4 separate regions of the Homo sapiens genome follow, and all the other regions are linked to region 2. The links come from fine-mapping of genetic effects on gene expression. A gene starts in region 2. Each other region holds a variant in brackets. All regions are shown on one strand. Distances are between the middles of the regions.

Evidence for each region. PIP is the estimated chance that this variant, and not a neighbour inherited with it, causes the effect.
Region 1: its variant is fine-mapped to the expression of MARK2 in whole blood (TOPMed, PIP above 0.99).
Region 3: its variant is fine-mapped to the expression of MARK2 in whole blood (TOPMed, PIP above 0.99).
Region 4: its variant is fine-mapped to the expression of MARK2 in whole blood (INTERVAL, PIP above 0.99).

What each region holds. Positions count from the first base shown.
Region 1 is chr11:63,878,745-63,883,887 of GRCh38, forward strand. All of the region lies in intron 1 of MARK2 (microtubule affinity regulating kinase 2), which reads left to right. It also overlaps the pseudogene RNU6-1306P. Among named protein-coding and RNA genes, the nearest start is that of RCOR2, 36 kb to the right of the region's middle. The variant T/C (reference allele first, on the strand shown) is at 2,750.
Region 2 is chr11:63,836,203-63,841,345 of GRCh38, forward strand. It overlaps MARK2 (microtubule affinity regulating kinase 2), which reads left to right and starts at 2,908. Exons shown (of 19, transcript NM_001039469.3): 1 at 2,908-3,358. The coding sequence starts at 3,305. RefSeq lists enhancers at 1,594-2,582, 2,843-2,992 and a silencer at 3,003-3,242.
Region 3 is chr11:63,927,679-63,932,821 of GRCh38, forward strand. It overlaps a transcript of RCOR2 not described here. Among named protein-coding and RNA genes, the nearest start is that of NAA40, 8.8 kb to the right of the region's middle. The variant G/A (reference allele first, on the strand shown) is at 2,233.
Region 4 is chr11:63,908,577-63,913,699 of GRCh38, forward strand. MARK2 (microtubule affinity regulating kinase 2) reads left to right here. Exons shown (of 19, transcript NM_001039469.3): 19 at 301-2,444. The coding sequence ends at 661. RCOR2 (REST corepressor 2) reads right to left here. Exons shown (of 12, transcript NM_173587.4): 9 at 4,294-4,371; 10 at 4,100-4,157; 11 at 3,729-3,958; 12 at 2,654-3,603. The coding sequence ends at 3,289. Among named protein-coding and RNA genes, the nearest start is that of RCOR2, 6.0 kb to the right of the region's middle. RefSeq lists a silencer at 1,681-1,975. The variant T/TTTA (reference allele first, on the strand shown) is at 2,078.

The sequences.
Region 1 (5,143 bases), 43 kb after region 2:
GAGAGCAAAGATCTGTTCCCGGGTCCTGAGTTGGAACTCTGAATTCATTTCCTGTTCTGGGCTATGGTTTAAGTCTTAAGTACAATTCACGTACCCCTTGAAATACTATGCTGGGACCTCATGGGCTGGCCTGAGAACACAGCTACCATTTGTAACATGTTTCTATGGAAAAAGAGTTCCTTCTTAGAACAGAACTTTTGGTAACTTGGGGATTTCTTGACTAATATGCTGCAACAGATTTGCATTTGCCTGTGGAAGTGTCTCTTTATTTTGTATTCAGCTGGGCACGGTGACTCACGCCTGTAATCCCAGCACTTTGGGAGGCCGAGGCAGGCAGATCACTTGAGGACAGGAGTTTGAGACCAGCCTGGCCAACATGGTAAAACCCCATCTCTACTAAAAATACAAAAAAATAATCTGGGCCTGGTGGTGAGCGCCTGTACTCCCAGCTACTCTGGAGGCTGAGGCAGGAGAATCACTTGAACCCAGGAGGTAGAGGTTGCAGTGAGCTGAGATGACACCACTGCACTCCAGCCTGGGCGATAGAGTGAGACTCTGTCTCAAAAAAAAAACATTTAAAAAATCACATTTTGTGGTCATGGCACTATCTATCACACAAGTAAGTTGTCCTCCTATATGCCAAATGACAGAAAAGAAGCACCCTCCTCTTCCCACCCAGAAAGGTTGCTAGAGAGCTACCCTTGTCTTCTGTGATTGCCTTGAGGGGCAGGTTTGTCTGGGTTCTCCATGTCAGCTGATTTGATCCATAGTCCAGTAGCACCTGAAACAGGATGCCCTCATTCCACAACTTAGGTGCCCTCTCCTGCTTGGTTTTTTAATGATCTGCTACAGGAGAAAGATAGCACCTCTCCCTTCAGCAGGAGCAGCCCAGTAAGGGCTTGCTTCTAGAAAGATTGGCCAGTTGGATTTTTAGTGGTCACTTAAGTGGAGTAGCCACTTTGCAGCCTGGCCCAACAGGGAGACAGTTCTGAGGTGAGGGTGGCAGTGACAGCCTTGGGGTGGTTTCTGATGTGCTCTGACCTCTGGCCATGGTGACTTCTGGAGCAACAAACTTTGTCCCAGTATTTTTTTCTGACATTTCCTCCTCCTTATTCAACTCCCTCTTTGAAACTGGAGGAGTAGGGAGGCAGTATTTGTTCACTTCCAGAGAAAGATGCAGCAGGAAGAGGCATATGTCTTGTTCTGCACTTTCCAGCAGCAATGCTGGGACTAGGGGGTCTAGAAGGCCTGTTTCCCAGCTCCAGGCTGGATCTTATCCTCAGCATACAAGCAAGTTTTAAGGAAACAACATTGGAAAGGGCAGAAACAAAGGGTTAAATCTGTACCCAGGTAGAAAGACTGTTGCATAAATGCTGAGTTTTTTTTTTGTTTTTTTTTTTAAGATCTCATGCTTCTTTTTTACTTTGTGTTGGCAAAAACCCCAGGAGAAGATGGGAGATTCTGGGAGGAGATGATTATGCTGGGTGAGTCAACTGAGCTCCCCAGCTGCCGTTTTTAGTTCTTTTGCTTTTCTGTAACAGGAGGCAGTTTGGGGAGGGGTTGGGGGCAGGGTGGGAATGCTGATTTTTGCAGCAGGACAGGAGGCAGGTGTGTATGGGTGAAATTATTTTGACACCCTAGAGTTAACCGGGCCTTAGAGTCAGTACATTGGTTCAAGTAACAAATATCAAAGCAGAACTCTTAGTGTGGCAAACAATAAATAATTGTCTCCTAGATTCTTATACAAGTCACTGTCCGTCCCCAATTGGTAGCTCTTAGAATGGCTCGAGTTGCATTCATTGTCACAGCAAGACACAATGGTTTTGATAGCAAAGCAGTAGAGAAACTAAATGTAGAGAGGCAGAGAGAACTGTATTAAGTCTGAGGACCTGGTGGTTGTCATGGGCAGCAGGAAGTGTGAAGGAGAGGGTTTTCCCTCCGATGAAAGGAAGGCTAGGGCTTGATTCAGGGGAGCAAGTGGGATGGGCCCTGCTGGTCCCTGGCTGTGCCTATATTCTGAGTCTGTCTCCAGCTCACCTTGGTGATCACTCACTTTTCATCCATCACTGGGATAGGGGATCTCGTGGCTCATTACCCTCATGGGTATTTTTTGCAGAGTACACTGAAGTGGGCTATCAGTTATCAGTTGGTCCCAGAGACCGTCATGAAGACATCGCAAAATGTTTTCTTATGTATTCATTTGTGCACATTTATTAATTCAGTACTTTACTGAATACTGTGCTGGGCATTGTTCTGGGCCATGAATAAGACAGACCTGGCCTGGTGCAGTGGCTCACGCCTGTAATCCCAGCACTTTGGGAGGCCAAGGCAGGCAGATCACCTGAGGTCAGGAGTTCGAGACCAGCCTGGCCAACATGGTGAAATCCCGTCTACTAAAAAAAAAAAACAAATTAGCCAGGCATGGTGGTGGGCACCTGTAATCCCAGCTACTTGGGAGGCTGAGGCAGGAGAATCGCTTGAACTCGGGAGGCAGAGGTTGCAGTCAGCCGAGATCACGCCACTGCACTCCAGCCTGGATGGCCAGAGAGAAACTCTGTCTCAAAAAAAAATACCAAGGTCCCTCCTTTTGTAGTGTAGTCTAGCAGGAAGGACAGATAGTAACCAACCAACTTCAAGGGCAACGAATGCCTCGAAAGAGGGGAAATGGGGCTGGTAGCAAGAAATTGTGATCTTCCTTCCTCTACCCTTATCTCTTGGGGTCGAGAGTGGGGTCGAGAGTGGGCAACTT[T/C]AAAGATCAAAAAGTTGTGCCTCTCTTGTTCCCTAAGTATTGTAACATGGGTCAGCTAGGTGTGGGCACTGTTGGGCACTGAGGGTATATGAAGGTGAGGGAGATACTGGCTCTCATCTGTCAGAGCATGAGGGGGTTAAGGTATGGGGACACAAACAAGAAATCAATGGGGCTGGGTGTGGTGGCTCACGCCTGTAATCCCAGCACTTTGGGAGGCTGAGGCAGGAAGATTGCTTGAGCCTAGGAGTTTGAGGCCAGCCTGGGCAAGATGGCAAGATGCCATCTCTACAAAAAAAATGAAATAAATAAAAAACTAGCCAGGCATAGTGGCACACACCTGTAGTCCCAACTATTCGAGAGGCTGAAGCAGGAGAATCCCTTGAACCCAGGAGTTTGAGGATGCAGTGAGCTGTGATTGTGCCATTGCAGTCCAGCCTGGGCAAGAGAGCAAGACTTCATCTCACAAAAGAAGAAGAAATGAAGAGTACAGATAGAGCGCTGAGAGTCTAGAGAAGTGAGTCTAGAGAAGTGAGTGACCACTCCCCGCTAAGACGGTGTCTGGATTTGAGATAAACAACGGATAAGAGGACTTACCTGGATCACAGGAAGGCGCATAGGATAGATGACCACTTTCCTTTTAGTATGTGTAGATCTGGGTAGCTCTTTGTACCACAATTCTGACCCATTCTTTTTTCTTATTATTTTTATTTATTTATTCAAAATAATAATTTTTTTTTTGAGACAGTCTTGCTCTGAGCCACCATGCCCAGCCTGAAATAATAAAAGTTTTAATCTTTTAAAAAATATGGGCCAGGCTTAGTGGCTCACACCTGTAATCCCAGCACTTTGGGAGGCCGAGCTGGGCGGATCACCTGAGATCAGGAGTTCGAGACTAGCCTGACCAACGTGGAGAAACCCTGTCTCTACTAAAAATACAAAATTAGCCGGGCATGGTGGCGCATACCTGTAATCCCAGTTACTTGGGAGGCTGAGGCAGGAGAATCACTTGAAACCCGGGAGGCGGAGGTTGCAGTGAGCCGAGATCACGCCATTGCATTCCAGCCTGGGCAACAGGAGCGAAACTCTGTCTCAAAAAAAAAAGGAATGCTTCACAAATTTGTGTGTCATCCTTGCACAGGGGCCATGCTAATCTTCTCTTTATTGTTCCATTTTTTTGTATATGTGCATGTACAGAGTAGTGGAGCTGGGTTATCACTACAGTCTAACTCCAGAATGACACCCTTCACTACTATACCATATATGGTGCCCCAGTATACAGCAGTGGAGCTAGGAAGAAAAGCCCAGTGTCTAGAGAGCCCAGAAAATATGCCAAGAACATATATACTAGGCAAAGAAAACGAGGTTAGGAGGAAGCCCAGCCACCTCAGCTGCACTGGTTAGGATCTGCTGCCTCCCCACAGTCCTCTGTAAAGTGAGCCAGACCTCTATGCTGCAGGCTTCCTTCTGCCTACCCCCACCACCCCCATCCCCCAGAGCCCTGGGCTACTGGCAGGCTGGCTCTCCTGTGATATGGAGGAACTTGTTGGTCTCCATGGTTACGGTAACCCACTGGTATGGGAGGAACCGCATAAAGTGCGAGGCTGGCAGTGTGAGCTTCCCTCAGCCCTTGGCACCATGTGGTACTGGTATGTCGGCTGTTTCATGGACCTTTTCTGGGAGGAGGGAGTTAAGGAACTGATGAAGAAGGGAAGAACCCTGGCAGGACCACTGTCGTCATCCTCTGGGCCACACAGAGGGCGAAGGCATGGGCACCATGTCATTCAGCTACTCCTCCTGCAGGATGGTTTTATGTTAGGAAAGAGGGTCCTCTTTGCCTGATTGCCCAGCCATGGCAGAATTTGACTTTTCCTTGTTATAGAGGGAATACCAGGATGACAGGAATCAACTTAGCTATACTGGTACTTACAGTCAAATTTCTAGGTATTGTAGCTCTTCCCAGAGCCCAGAGAACCCTTGGAGAGGGGAAACAATGGTTCCTACCCAAAAATGAAGCTAGATAATAATAGAATACATCATCAAGACATTACTGAACACCACGTTCTATGGTAAACACTGACATGGATTTTCCTTTTTTTTTTCCTTTGAGACAGGGTCTTACTCTGTCACCCAGGCTGGAGTGCAGCAGTGTGATCACGGCTCACTGCAGCCTCAGCCTACCTCCCTGGGCTCAGGTGATCCTTCCACCTCAGCCTCCCAAGTAGCTGGGATTGCAGGCACTTGTCACCACACCCCGGCTAATTTTTGTGTTTTTTTGTAGAGCCTGTGTTTTGCCATGTTGCCCAGGCTGGCCTCGAGTTCCTAGGCTCAAGGGATCTGCCTGTCTTGGCCTCCCAAAGTGCTGGAATCAGAGGTGTAAGCCACCACGCCCGGCCA
Region 2 (5,143 bases):
TTGCTGAATGAATAAATGAATTTGCAGATTTAGAGAGGGGGTAAATGTGTGGCAATAATTCATCTTTGAGGAGAACTAGGAGGGTTCATGGATTTGAGTAGGTGAGATTTGAACTGGATCTTGAAGTGGTTCTGGAAGCTGAGGTGGATGATGGGCAATCATCTATCAGCTTGACCAAAGGCATGGAAGTGAGAGAGACTGGCAGCGGGGTAGGAGTTAGGGAGAAGTGTGATCAGTGATAGTTGGAGAGGTTATTGTAAGGCAATGTGAGGCCAGATTGAGCAAAGTTTTAAATGCAGGCTAAAGGCTTTTCCTACAGCCAGGACCAGCTACATAATTTGTGGGGCACAGTGCAAAATGGAAATGCATGGCCCCCTTGGTCAAAAATTTCAAGATAATGGGCCGGGCGTGGTGGCTCACGCCTGTAATCCCAGCACTTTGGGAGGCCGAGGCAGGTGGATCACTTGAGGTTGGGAGTTCTAGACCAAACTGGCCAACATGGTGAAACCCTGTCTTTACTAAAAACACAAAAAATTAGCCGGGTGTGGTGGTGGGCACCTATAATCCCAGCTATTCAGGAGGCTGAGGCATGAGAATCACTTGAACCTGGGAGGTGGAGGTTGCAGTGAGCTGAGATCGCACCACTGCACTCCAGCCTGGGAGATAGAGCGAGATTCAGTCTTAAAAAAAAAAATTTCAAGATGGTGACAGCAGAGCATTAATCCAAGCTCAGGGTCCACCTGAGCACAGGGCTCTGTGTGACTGCATGGGGTCGTGGGCCCAAGAAGCCAGCCCTGCCTATAACCAGTGAGGGAGCTGGTGATAGCTTTCTAGCAGAGCAGAGATGTTATTGGAGCTGGACTTTGGGAAGATTATTCTGACATGTCTGGTGCAGTAGGTTGGAGGGAGTCTAGGCGGGGAGACAAGCTCAGCAGCCTTGTGCAAAGCTAGCAAGGAAGAGAAAGGATAGGTAGGGTAGGGGTTGGGGATGAAGGTCAAAGGGCAGGGGTGAGGCAGGGGTTAGAGCTAGAGTGAGAAGCTTGGAGAAGATGGAGTCTATTTAGACGAGAGTGTGGACCAGGGAGAGACTGCTGGAACACCAACCACCAACTGCTTCCTCTCTCTTTTCCCTGCTTTCCAGACCCTGGCATTAGAGGTGATACCAGGCACAGGAATCAGCAACGTGTCTCCCTTTGGCCACCAGAGGGCAGATGATTCTCAAGGATCGAATTTGGGTTGGGGAGTGAGGTGTTCTCTGTCCTCCTCTTCTCTCTTTCCCTCACCTTCATGGGTGTGCCTTCACCTTCTTCCTCAACGGTTGGGTGCCTGAATAGAGCTGGTATGGGGCATGGGGAGCAGTGCTGAAGTCCCAGGATTTACTAAGAGTGTAGTGATACCTGTTGCCTTAGGAAGTACTTTCATACCCTGGTAATTACATCTGCTCAGATGCCTATTTCTCTGATTGATGGGATGAAGGCTGGCTCAAGATGCTGTAGCTGGGAGTTGGAGGTCAAGTAGCAGGGGTCCAATCAGCAGTTTTCCCAATAACTCCTGGAGCCTCTCTGCTCCTGTACCTTTGGGAACCTGTTGCCTGAGTCTGGTTTCTGACTCCTGCGGGGCCTCTGCCTCCTGCCCACCTTAAGCCACTGATGGGAGGGTGTGGTTCCAACGTGTTCCAGGTACTATGGGTGAGGACAGCTTGGCGCTGGGGAAATCAGCCCAGGATACTCCCTGTCCTTGGTAACGCAGTGTAAGGGGAAGTGAGGAATGGACTGCAGTTGCCATACAGACTTCCTGTTAGTCAAGGGCTCTCCAAAGCTGAGAAGGACCTCCGAGTTCATGAATCCAATGGCTTCACTTTACTGATGGGGAAAATGAGGCCCAGAGGAGGAAAGAAAAGAAACTTTAAATGCCTTATCTTGCAGAGGCATTTTAAAAGGTAACTGGAATTCAGAAATGTCATTTTGAATGTCAACGCAGGAGCAAAGGCAAAGGAAAGAGGAGCCTAAACTCAGTGATGTTATGTGATTTTTCCAAGATCACGCAGCATTGGCACTTGGCAGAGCTGGGGCTGAAATGCAGGGCCCTGGACGCTCCCGCATCCGGTGCAGAGGACGCTGCCCTGGGCCTGCCTGGGGCCTTGCCGAGCCCTGCGGACTAGATGCGGGAATGCACGGATGAATCCACAGAAGCCAAGATAGACGGTGGCAGACAGGCAATAGACTGATGCTGCATTTGACAGGTATATTGATAGGCTAGATGATAAAAAGAAGATGAATTTTATGAGCTGACCGACAGATGGACAGAAATGCAGACAGGAAGCTGCTATAGAACCAGAGGATGCCAATCACAGGGACGGCTAACAATCTTGTTTTGTATTTAGTCAAATCACAAGCACAGACAGGTGACCCACGCTTCCTGTTCAAGGTTTGAAAATGCCCGAAAACTGACGGAAAGACACGAAGCGAATCAGACTCCGAGAGCCACCCGGGGAAACGACCGGGTGCTCGGAGGGCCTCGGGTGTTGCCGGAAATGGCCGACGACCGCCCTCGGCAGGGCTGTGGGAGGGGGCGTGGCCGGCTCAGCACGCGGAGCAGCTTCGGGTATTTCCGGAAACTGCCGAAAGCCCCCTTGAAGTGGGCGGGGAAAGGCCGGTGGGCGTGGCTGGATGGCCGTGGACGGGGGCGGGGGGTAGGCACCCGGGGTCGCTTCGTGGATTTCCGTAAACAGAGCCGAAGCTTCGTCTTCGGAATCGAGGAGGAGAGCGCGTCCCCGGGGTTTACCTTCTTCGGCTGTTTCCGGAATTCACCCGTAGTCTGTGGCCGGGAGGAGAAGGCGCGCCCCACCTCCCGTTTCTAGCCGCTTCGGATGTTTCCGGCTGCTGCCGGCGAAAAGAGCCGAGGGCCGGCGGTGGTGGCGGCCATGTTGGGAGCAGCAGGTCCGGCGGCGGCTGCCTGTGTGCCGGGCGCGGAGCAGTGCCGCTGAGGGCAGGGGAGGAGCGAGGCAGGCGGCCGGCTGCGGCGGCAGAGAGTAGGCGGAGCGGCGCGGCCCGGCCGAAAGGCGGCACAGCCCAGCCGGGGGTCGGGGGGGTGCGGTCCGGAGCCGCTCGGAGCCGGCGCGGCCTAGCCCGAGCGGCGCATCCCCGGGCTGGCGTGAGCGGCTGCCCGGCCTCCCCGCACCCCCGGCCGGGGCCCATGCGGCGGGTGCTCCTGCTGTGAGAAGCCCCGCCCGGCCGGGCTCCGCGCCTTCCCTTCCCTCCCTTCCTCCAAGCTTCTCGGTTCCCTCCCCCGAGATACCGGCGCCATGTCCAGCGCTCGGACCCCCCTACCCACGCTGAACGAGAGGGACACGGAGCAGGTAAGGAGCCCCGAGGGCTCCCCGAATTCTCTGGCTGGGCCCTTTGCACCTTGCGGAGCCTCCTCCCTCTTCTGCTCTCCTCGTGCCCCTGCTGCCATCCTGCAAGCCTCGGCTGCCCTGTCATCCGGCTCCTGGCTCCGGCTCCGCACATCCCGCTTCCGAGTCCTGACCTGGGACCCACCTCGTCCTGACTCCAAGCTGCACACTTGTCTTTCTGCCAACCCCCGTCTCCCCTCACCGCCCTCCTGCGCTCTTCCGTGTCACCTCCCCAGCTTCCCTTTCTCTTCCCTTTTTCTCTCAGGGGCCTTTCTGGTCTTCCTCCACCCACGCTTAAAGCAGCCACCCTCCCGCTCCTCGAATAGCAGCACCCCGCGATTTGCCACAGATCGTTGTCCACCTCTCCCTTCGTCTCTCCTGCCTCGCTTCCCCTCCGCCCGCACCGGTTCTGCCAGTCTCTGGGTTATCACCCTCAGGGTCCTTGCCCTGGACTGCGCTCTCGATCCCTGGCCCCTTGCAGTTCCCCCAGCTTTTTCTACCCTGCTTCTTCGTTTTCCAAATTGTGCTCTCCCTCTTGCTTGCAACCCACCAGCTCCACCCTCATCACCTTTCCAAATCCTTCGCCTACTCTTTGCTCATCACTTTCCCTTCTTTGCTCCAGGAGCTCCCTGGATCCTGGCGCTGGCATTTGTCGCTTCCGTGTTTCCCCACAGCTGTCATGCGCATAGTTTTCCCACAGGTTGCGTTTGGGGTTCCAATCATCACTCCCTTCAGAGTCTTTGGATCCCTCTTGTTCTCTTCCCCTCGGGTTTGGCTTTTAGGTCCCTGGGCCTCTTGTTTCTCTCTGTGAGTGTTCTACCAGCCTTCTACTGGGCTCTTTCTCCCAACCCAAAGACACTTGGCCCCACCGTATTAACACAACCTGTTGCTCAGTCCTTTCCCAGACCTCGCTGCATCACAGTTTTTGCCTTTCTGTCTTCGTACGCTGGAACACAAACCATGATGACTTTCTGTGTCTTCACTCCCGTGCCTGGCACTTAGAGTATTTTCTTTCTTGCTTGTTGCCTTCCTGTTTCTCCACCCTCACCCCATCTTCCTTACTGTGCCTTTTAATCAGCGTTGCCTTTCATCTCCGCATTAGTCTCCTGCCTTCTTCATGTCCTGTGTATCCCCACACCGTGCTTGGATCCATTCTGTTCCTATTGGCTAAGTCTCTGTAATGCCCAGGAAGTCCAGGTGTTTTGCATGCTAGTTTCTTGAGCTACACCTCAGCCTCACGACTCTACACGGTCCCCCTCATCCTGGCAGTCACTGCTATGTTTTTCACCCAAGTCTTAGCCTTTCTGTGTCATCTCACTTTTGATCCCAGAGACGTCCACTTTCCACACCTCCCCTTTCTTTCACCATCTCTAGCGTCCTTTGCTGACTGCTCTGTGCAGAGTCCCCTGCCTGTCATACCTTTCTTGGTGGAGAACTTTACTAGGCCAAAAAAACTTGACTTGAAAAAGAAGTGCTTCTGCCCCGGGGCTGCTGTGCTTTTTGCCTTCTTTCCCCTCCTTCCATCCTTTATGTTTCCCTCTTACTCCCTTCTTTCTTTGTAGCCCGGTAGAGCAGTTGTTGTATTCTCTTGCATGTGAACATTCTTCTTTGAAAAATCTTACCTCCTTTCTTTTACTGTGTTTTTCTATTTTGTTACCCCCTGGCCCTCTGTCACCTGGGCAGTTAGGAACTAAAGAGAAGTTCTAGGCAGAGTTTTTCTCTGCAGGGTTGACCCTTTTATTACTTGTG
Region 3 (5,143 bases), 91 kb after region 2:
AACTAATGGTTGCTGGGAGAATCAGCCTCAGGTGTCCCAAGCACCACTTCCCCAGGAAAGCCCTTCCTAACTGCTCCCAGCTCCCTAACAGCCCCCAGCTCCCTAACTGCCCCCAGCCCCCTTCCTAACTGCTCCTCCCCTCCCTAACTGCCCCCAGCCCCTCTCACTACAGATACCCACACTGGTAGGTCCAAGAAGATCACTTCTGCCAAACCTATCTTGATTTTACCAACATATCAGGACCTGCTCCTTGAAGGCAAAGTCTTGTAATAATAGTAGAAGTAAGAGCCAATTTCAAGTGCTTATTAGTTAGTTTTTCACAACTACATTCCCAAACCCTATTAGTGCAAGTATATAGTAGGTGTTTAAATACCATTGTTAAATAAATTAGTGGAGGAATAAACAAATGAAATGAATGCATATATATACCAACCACCATGTGCAAAATGCCTTACCTGGGTTATCCCATTTTTCCCCCATAGCAGCCCTATTTTCCAGACGAAAGGCTGAGGCTTCAGGTCACCTGCCTAAGATCACACAGCTTGATGGTGGCAGAGCTGAGAGCCAGTCCCAAGCTGGGTGATACCAGAGACATATTTTCAAAATCTTGTGTCCCCTCCCTTTCAGTTAAGATGCATGTGGCTGCAAGTAGAGGAACAGCCACTCAGTGATGACTTGGGCAAAGCAGGCATTTTACCTTTCCTAAGGAGTCAGGAGGTCAGTGTCACCACTGACAGAGGCTCAGTGGTCATCGAGGTCTCAGGTGCTTCTCCTTTCTCAGCATTGTCCCTTCCACGTATCAGATTTCTCCTCATGATCACTAGATGGCTGCAGCTGCTCCAAGCATCCCATCCTCTGAGGACAATTTCCAGAGTGGGAGAGGAGGGGCAGGGAGCACGGACTCTCTCCTTGGCATTTGTCTTGTTATCTATCAGGAAGAACAACCCTTCCCAGGAATCCCAGAACAGCCCCAAGTCCCTTAAACCAATCCCTCAAAGGAGAACAGGATTCCTAGGCTTGGATTAGACCCATGGTGCTTGTACTCCAGCACACCTGCCATGACCCCTACCCATCACCCGAGCAAAGGCGGGGTTCTGCCGTTGTCTTAGTCCATTGTGCTGCTGTAACAGAACATCTGAGACTGGGTTATAAAGAACAGAGGCGCCGGGCGCGGTGGCTCACACCTGTAATCCCAGCACTTTGGGAGGCCAAGGTGGGCGGATCATGAGGTCAGGAGTTCGAAGCCAGCCTGGCCAACATGGTGAAACTCCGCCTCTACTAAAAATACAAAAAATAGCCGGGCATGGTGGCGGGCGCCTGTAGTCCCAGCTACTTGGGAGACTGAGGCAGAAGAATTGTCTGAACCCAGGAGGTGGAGGTTGCATTGAGCCGAGATGGCACCACTGCACTCCAGCCTGGCGACAGAGCAAGACTCTGTCTCAAAAAAAAAAAAAAAAAAAAAACAGAGGCCGGGTGCGGTGGCTCATGCTTGTAATCCCAGTACTTTGGGAGGCTGAGGTGGGTGGATCACCTCAGATCAGGCATTCGAAATCAGCCTAGCCAACATGGTGAAACCCCGTCTCTACTACAAATACAAAAAAAATTAGCTGGGCATGGTGGCACATGCCTGTAATCCCAGCTACTTGAGAGGCTGAGGCAGGAGAATCACTTGAATCCAGGAGGCGGAAGTTGCAATGAGCCGAGATCGCCCCATTGCACTCCAGCCTGGGCAACAGGGCGAGATTCTGTCTTAAAAAAATAACAACTACTACAACAAAAGATTACTGGGGCCATGTTGGTGGCTGGCTACACAGGCCGGATAAGAGGTCTGGTACTAGAGAGGGTTCTGGGGGTGGAGGTCCTGAAAGAAGAAACAGAGATTTTGGGAAACATGGAGCCTTGGGAGTGTGTTAGTTTTCCCGGGCTGCCCTAATGAAGTATCACAAACCAGATGGCTTAAAACAACAGCAATTCGTTTTGTCCCAGTTCTCCCAGAAGCTCAAAATCAAGGTGTTGGCAGAGCTGGTTCCTTTTCTAGGCTCTGAGGGAAAACCCACTGCGTGCCTCTCTCCTTGGCAGTCCTTGACTCCTAGTTGCCTCGTTCCAGTCTCCGGCTCCGGCTTCACATGGCTGTCTTCCTGCTGTATCTCAAATCTCCCTCTGCTTTCTCTTCTAAGGACACCAGTCATTGGATTTAGGGCCCACCCTAAATCCAGGATGATCTCATCCCAA[G/A]AGCTTTAACTTAATTACATCTGCAAGACTCTATTTCCAATTAAGGTCACATTCACAGATACAGGGTAGGGGGATGGTTAGGACTTGAACATATAATCTGGGGGGATTCTATTCAACCCACTGTGGGAGATATCTCCATGGAGGGGCTGTTGGTGTATGACCTAATAGTTCCATCTGCAGGGCTCAGGTGTTACCTCCTCTAGGGACCTTGCTTCTTTTGTGCCCTACAGCACCTGTGCCTGCCGCCATCACTGCCCATATTCCTTCAGCTAACATTTACTGAGTGTGTGCTTTACACCAGGCACCAAGCTGGTGCCAAATTTAGCACATAAAAATACAAGACGGCTGGGCATGGTGGCTCATGCCTGTAATCCCAGCACTTTGGGAGGCCAAGGCGAGGGCATCACTTAAGATCAGGAGTTTGAGACCAGCCTGACCAACATGGTGAAACCTTGTCTCTACTAAAAATACAAAAATTAGCCAGGTGTGGTGGTGCACGCCTGTAATCCCAGCTACTCGGGAGGCTGAGGCAGGAGAATAGCTTGAACTTGGCAGGGGGAGGTTGCAGTGGGCCAGGATGGTGCCACTGCACTCCAGCCTGGAGACAGAACAAGACTCTCTCTCAAATTATTTTATTTTATTATTTTATTTTTTTTTTCCTCCCAGGTTCAAGCGATTCTCCTGCCTCATCCTCCTGAGTAGCTGGGATTATAGATGCCCACCACCACGCCCGGCTAATTTTTGTATTTTTAGTAGAGACAGGGTTTCACCATGTTGGCCAGGCTGGTCTTAAACTCTTGACCTCATGTGATCCACGTGCCTCAGCCTCCCAAAGTGCTGGGATTACAGGCGTGAGCCACTGTGCCTGGCCAGTTAAATTTAAATTTCAGATAAATGGTAGTCGGGCGTGGTGGTGCGCAGCTGTAATCCTACCTACTTGGGAGGCTGAGGCAGGAGAATCACTTAAACCCAGGAGGCAGAGGTTGCAGTGAGTCGAGATCGTGCCACTGCACTGCACTCCAGCAGAGTGCTACAGAGCGAGACCCTGTCTAAAAAATAAATAAATAAAACAGAAAATAAATTTCAGATAAACAGTGAGTTTCAGTTTGTCCCACTTATGGAATCTGGCAACCCTAACAGCAGAAAGGCACAGTCACCCACTGCAGGGAGCACAGGATGCCACATGGAGCAGCGGCCCTGGCCAAGCGGGCAGGGGTGGAACAACCATACAGAGTTTAGAGCCGCAGAAGGCCTTTAACTGACCAACCAGATGTGGGTTTTAGAAAAACAGGGGCGTGTGGTGTCACAGGAGCCAAGGGAAGAACAGTGTTTCAAGGAAGAGGGAGGGAATAACAGAGCTACATGTTGCAGGAAGGGCCGGAAAGATGAGGCTGAGACAGGGAAGCACAGTTGGAGTTAGCAAAACTGCTGGAGGCACCAGGAGGGAGGCGTAGGTTGCAGGGGACAGCAGCCAAGCTGCAGGGGTTGAGGAGTGAGAGGAATGAGAAGCTAAGGAAGGAGACACAGGGTAGGCTGTTGCCTCTACAAGCTTTTTGTGTGTGTGTGTGTGTTTGTTTGTTGTTGTTGTTTTTGTCACCCAGGCTGCAGTGCAGTGGCGAGATCTCGGCTCACTGCAACCTCCGCCTCCTGGGTTCAAGTGATTCTCCTGCCTCAGCCTCCTGAGTAGCTGGGATTACAAGTGTGCGTCACCACTCCTGGCTAATTTTTTTTGTATTTTTGGTAGAGGTGGGGTTTTGCCGTGTTGGCCAGGTGGTCTCAAACTCCTGACCTCAAGTGATCACCTGCCTCAGCCTCCTAAAGTGCTGGGATTATAGGCGTAAGCCACCACCCCTGGCCTCCACAAGCTTTTGAGTAGGGAAGAGAGGCCCCCTAGGGCGGGCAGGAGCCAGGAAGGAGCACAAGCGAAGGAGGCCTGGGGAAAGAGGTTCACAGCCGGGAGGGACCCTGAGGGGCCTTAGCGTTTGACACTCTAGGTGGACCTGGCCTTGGGTGGCAGGAGGAGAAGTGTAAATTCAGATTCTTCTGGGGAAGTCCGGGGACTCTCAGCTGCCCACTCATCACACAGTGCGATGACTGCCCTCCCCAAACGTGCTCTCCTTCTCTGGCAGGAGCTGTCTCCCAAGCTGTTCCTCCGCACAGAAGGCAAAGCGGAGCACATGGCGGCCCCCGTGCCTTGGCTGAATGAAGGAGTGAATGAATACTTGGGAGCGGCTGCGGGCCATAGAGGGAGAAGAGGGCAAAGCCTGGAGATTGGGAGTGGCTGTGTCTGAGGCATAGGGAGGAAGAGGCAGCGGAGGAGGGAGGAGCCAGGGAGTCCAGGGGCCTCGGAGAGATGAGGGAGACAGAGTCCCTTGCCGGAGAGGTCGGAGCCGAGTGTGGAGAAGGGGTGCTTCAGCCCCCTGCGTGGGGGTTGGAGAGAAGGGTAAATGAGGCAGCGTAGAAAGCCTGGTCAATGTGGGTGCGGCGGGAGGGATGCGATGCCAGGGAGGGGAGAAGGGGACACATACTTTTTTTTTTTTTTTGAGATAGAGTCTTGCTCTATTGCCCAGGCTGGAGTGCGGTGGTGCAATATCGGCTCACTGCAACCTCCGCCTGTAGGGTTCAAGCGATTCTCCTGCCTCAGCCTCCCAGGTAGCTGGGACTACAGGTGTGCGTCACTACGTCTGGCTAATTTTTTTTTTTTTTTAGATGGAGTCTCGCTTTGTTGCCCAGGCTGGAGTGCGGTGGTGCGATCTCTGCTCACTGCAACCTCTGTCTCCCAGGTTCAAGCAATTCTCTGCCTCAGCCTCCTGAGTAGCCGGGATTACAGGCGCCCGCCACCAGGCCGGGCTAATTTTTGTATTTTTAGTAGAGACGGGGTTTCACCCTTTTTTTTTTTTTTTTTTGAGAT
Region 4 (5,123 bases), 72 kb after region 2:
TCCCTGTGCTCGGAGGCTTCTTTCTGGAGAGAGAGTCTGTGCTCGTGCTGTTGAGGGCACTGGTGTCTTCCCTGACCCCACCCCGCCTACCCCAAGGCTGGCTTCTCCTCCCCTTCGCTGTCCTGAGAGATGGGGGTTGGAGGACTGCCACCCTCCGCCCCCGCAGGCCAGGGGCCACGCCTGGCTGCTCCTGCTCCCTCCCGCTCTCCTCTCTGGGCTCAGGGGCTGTCTGCCAGGGTGGCTCTCCTGGGGTGGGGTGCCTCAGCCCCCCCGTGACGCCCGCCTCTGCCCTCTCCACAGACCTCACGTGGTGGGCAGTGGCGGCAACGACAAAGAAAAGGAAGAATTTCGGGAGGCCAAGCCCCGCTCCCTCCGCTTCACGTGGAGTATGAAGACCACGAGCTCCATGGAGCCCAACGAGATGATGCGGGAGATCCGCAAGGTGCTGGACGCGAACAGCTGCCAGAGCGAGCTGCATGAGAAGTACATGCTGCTGTGCATGCACGGCACGCCGGGCCACGAGGACTTCGTGCAGTGGGAGATGGAGGTGTGCAAACTGCCGCGGCTCTCTCTCAACGGGGTTCGATTTAAGCGGATATCGGGCACCTCCATGGCCTTCAAAAACATTGCCTCCAAAATAGCCAACGAGCTGAAGCTTTAACAGGCTGCCAGGAGCGGGGGCGGCGGGGGCGGGCCAGCTGGACGGGCTGCCGGCCGCTGCGCCGCCCCACCTGGGCGAGACTGCAGCGATGGATTGGTGTGTCTCCCCTGCTGGCACTTCTCCCCTCCCTGGCCCTTCTCAGTTTTCTCTTACATGTTTGTGGGGGGTGGGAGATTGTTCTCCAGCACCCCACATTCACCCCTGCCCAGAGATTCCCCCTTCTCCTCTCCCCTACTGGAGGCAAAGGAAGGGGAGGGTGGATGGGGGGGCAGGGCTCCCCCTCGGTACTGCGGTTGCACAGAGTATTTCGCCTAAACCAAGAAATTTTTTATTACCAAAAAGAAAAAAGAAAAAAAAAATCCCAGCGGCCACCTTTCCTCCCTGCCCCATTGGGACAGTCGAGACTGGATCTGTGGGGTTTCCCGGGAGGGTGGCTCAGGGCTGGAACACTCTCAGGCAAGAGTGGTGGAGCTCCCGTCAGGCCCTCCGCCAGGCCCACTGTGGGCTTCTCCCCTCTCCTCCCTCCTTCCCCTCCAAGCAAACCACCAGAGGTGGCCTTCCCCTGACCTCAGGCCCCTGGGCTGGAGGCCTGGGCGGTGGGGCAGGGGGCGGGGGTGCTGCGCAGCCCTGCAGTGGGTGGGGCTGGGGGCTGCTCCGGGGCTGCTGAGGCTGGAGGGCCGGCACAAGGCTCCGCCTCCCTCCACACTGTACCCTCTGCCCCTCCTCCCCAGAGCTGGGCATTTCCTTCCACAAGCTGCTGTGGGGACGTGTGTTCCCTCAAAGTCTGTGCCATCTTCTCCCACCCCTCCCGGGTAGAAGGAGGGGCTGACCCCAGGGCTGGGAGAGGGGAGGGGACTGGAGGGCAGACTGGCTTCTCGGTCCCCAGGGGGCCGCTTGGGCTGTTGGTCTCCAGAGCAGGGCCACTGGGCACTCTGTGATGGGGGAGCCTTTGTCTGAAAGCACAGCCCCCTCGCCCTTCCTCTCCCCATGGCTTCCCCTTCATTGGCATTAATCTGGGCACCAGCTCTCTCCATAGCAGTGACTTCCCTCACCACTCTCATCTCTCAGCCTTGCCTTTTCTTCCTGACACTGTCGCCCCCTCCTCTCAGGAGACACTGCCGAGGGCCACCTGGCAGAAGGCTGAGTTAGGCAGCAGGGCCGGGAGCGTCTGCCCTCCACAGGGTGGGGGACAGATAGGCTAAGCGACTCCCAGCTTGCTACCCTCAGTGGCCAGTGTGGGCGTGGGCGGTTTGGGGCGCTTGGCTGGTGGTGGCCACTGCATCCCTTAATTTATTTCTCTGCTGTTTCTGTTCTTGAGAAATTGGGGGTGGGAGTCCTACACAGAGGCTGCCCCTACCCTCACCTGAGTTGTACATTTTTTTGTGATGGGTTTTATTTTTTATTATTTTATTTTAT[T/TTTA]TTTTTTTTTTTTGATTTATGATGACTCCACCCCTCTTCATCACCCCCGCTCCCAGGCCAGGCTCAGCGATTAAGCCGAGCCCTTGCGTCCTAGGAAGGGGCCTTGCCAACCTCAGCCCTCCTGCCCCACACTCCTACTGCGGCTCAGACCAAGGGCTCCCCCTCCCTCCCTTCCCCCCTCCTGCCCTATGGAACAGCCCGGGTGCTCTGAGGGGGCTGGGAGGGCATGGCTTGGCTCCCAAAGGGGGTAGGGGCCCGGGGCACCCAGGCAAGGTGGCCCCTCCCCGTCTAGCCCCCTCCTCCCCAACCCTGCACTTAGTTTCTCCTCTGGATCAAACACGTAATAAAGAGAATGTTTGGAATCTGAGCTGCCTCCTCCTGTTTCTTCTCCCAGCCAGGCAGGGACCCAGTCTCCTGTGGGCAAGATGTGGCCTAGCCCACCTGCCTTGCAGGAGAGACTTGATTCCTGTCTGGGGCCAGTGCTGGGTGGGCCCAGCTCCCCACTTACCCACAGGGCACAGACAGGAAGCAAAGCCCAGGGCCCTTGCACCAAAAGGGAAAGAAAACTCAGTAAGCTTAGATTTTATTTTTTTTAATTTTTAAAAAATGTTGAAAAATAAATCCATGTCTGCATAAGTTCCCAACCCCCATTTCTCCAAGTTTCTGGAAGGTGGGCTTGGTGGGCACCCTCAGCTCCTTAGCATTTCCCAGCTGGCCCCTGAAGACAGAGCTTCTCTTCCAGCCTCTGCTGCTGTAAGGCCCCTCTGCCCACCTCCCCCCCTGCAGCCTCCCTCCCCACCTCACCCCAGACTTATTGCTAAAAGAAGGGAAAGAGGAATGAGAACAGCCAGCACACCCAACTGCCCTCTCCCCACTCCACGCTAAGGTCACTACCCCGGACACACAAAGGGCAGGACCCAGAGGCCAAGCCCCAGCAGACTAGGACACAGCCATTCCAGTACCGGCCAGGAAGCGAAAGTGCCCTCAGGCCAGCTCAAAGGCCCCTGAGCCCGGCCATGGCCCCAGGAGACAGGCCCAGCTGCCAGGAACACATGCAGAACCCAAAGGGCGGGGCTGGGCTGTCCGAAACTCTGGTCTTACAAAGACCCCGCCAGAGCCCTAGTCCCTTCTGTCCTCAGTGACACCAGAGATGCCTGGGGATGGCCAGCAAAGGGGTCCTGGAGCCCGTGGTTGGTGGAGGACGTCAGGGCTCAGAGTGAGGGTGCTGGGGGCTCCAGAGGGGTTCCAATCAGGGTGGGTGGGGGCTGAGGGCCAGGGCGGGCGCTGTGGCGGGGGGCAGCCAGAGCGGGGCGGATGAGAGGCGGTGGGGGCTGGTTGGGGGCCAGCCGGGGCTGGAGGAAGCGGCCCTGCTGCAGTGGGGGTGGCTGTCGGAGCAGAGTGGGAGCCGTGGGCAAAGGTGGCCTCAGCAGCGGGGGTGGCTGGGACAGCGAGGTGGGAGGTGGAGGGGGTGGTGGCGCAGGGGGCACTGATCGGGGCACGGACGTGGAGACCGATGTAATCTGGACCTGAGGGGAGAGGAAAGAGTGAGAAGCCAGGCTCTTCCCGCCCTCAGCCCAGTCTAAGGACCAAGGCGGCGCCTCACCTCGCCTCGCCTCTCCTCTCTGAGGGGTTTCTCTCACCCCCTTCTCACCTCATCATCTTCCTCTAGGGCTGGGGCTGGCAATGGAGCCCCTCTCCTAGCCTCCTCCATGGGGACTGGGGCTCCAGGGGCCCCATCCTGCTCAGCCTCCCATTCCTGCAGCACCTCCTCCAGATTGAAGCGGCGCCGGTAGCTCACAAAGAAAGTCTTCACCTGGGTCAGAGTCTTGTTCCCAATCACCTCTGCAATAGCCCCAAAGTCTTTGCCATACCTACGGATGGCTGCAAGGGTCAAAAGGGCAGCAGCGTCAATACCCCTTCGAACTAGTTACTTCCCTGACCCTTCCCCTCTGCCCCCCCACTCCTTGGAGGGTGGGGAGATAGATTCCTGGGGTCCTCTCTTCTCACCACAGTTTAACCCACCTTGAACAGCCAAAAGCTGCTCATCTGTGGTCCAGCGGGAGTTGAACTTGGTGTTGGCCTGGAAAGCAAGGAACAACATATCCTTTAGACTCAAAACCATGCAAATGGAAGCCCTGCTCCCCAAGCAGTACTCTTTCTGCTCTGCCTCCAGAGAGAAACCCCCCTTTGCACCCTAACTTAAAGAGCAGCCATACCTCCGGGGGGCGTAGTGGATCAATACCGCCCTCCAGGGCTTGGCGCAGGCTGCTGTTCGTCTGCTTCATGCTCTGTACCTGGGAAGGCCAGGAAGTGGAGGAATATCAGACTCCCATCTCAGGCAGGCCACTATGCCCCTCACAGGACCCTACTTCTGCACAGACACCAGCACCACTGCCCCGGCAAAGCTTTCTGCCATCCACCATCTGGCTTGTTCCTCCTAAACAACTACTCAGTAGGGGAGCCGCTGGGGTTCTCCCCTTTCTGCAGACCAGTTTATATTTTTATTTTTTATATATATATATATATATATATTTTTTTTTTTTTTTTTTTGAGAAGGAGTTTTATTCTTGTTACCCAGGTTGGAGTGCAATGGCGCAATCTCAGCTCACCAAAACCTCTGCCTCCCGGGTTCAAGCGATTCTCCTGCCTCAGCCTCCTGAGTAGCTGGGATTACAAGCGCCTGCTACCACACCTGGCTAATTTTGTATTTTTTTTTAGTAGAGACAGGGTTTCTCCATGTTGGTCAGGCTGGTCTCGAACTCCCGACCTCAGGTGATCCACCCACCTCAGCCTCCCAAAGTGCTGGGATTACAGGTATGAGCCACCGTGCTCGGCCTATTTTTTTTTGAGACGGAATCTCACTCTGTCGCCCAGGCTGGAGTGCAGTGGTGCAATCTCAGCTCACTGCAACCTCCGCCTCCCAAGTTCAAGAGACTCTCCTGTCTCAGCCTCCCGAGTAGCTGGGATTACAGGTGTGTGCCACCACGCCCAGCTAATTTTTGTATTTTTAGTAGAGACAGGTTTCACTATGTTGGCCAGGATGGTC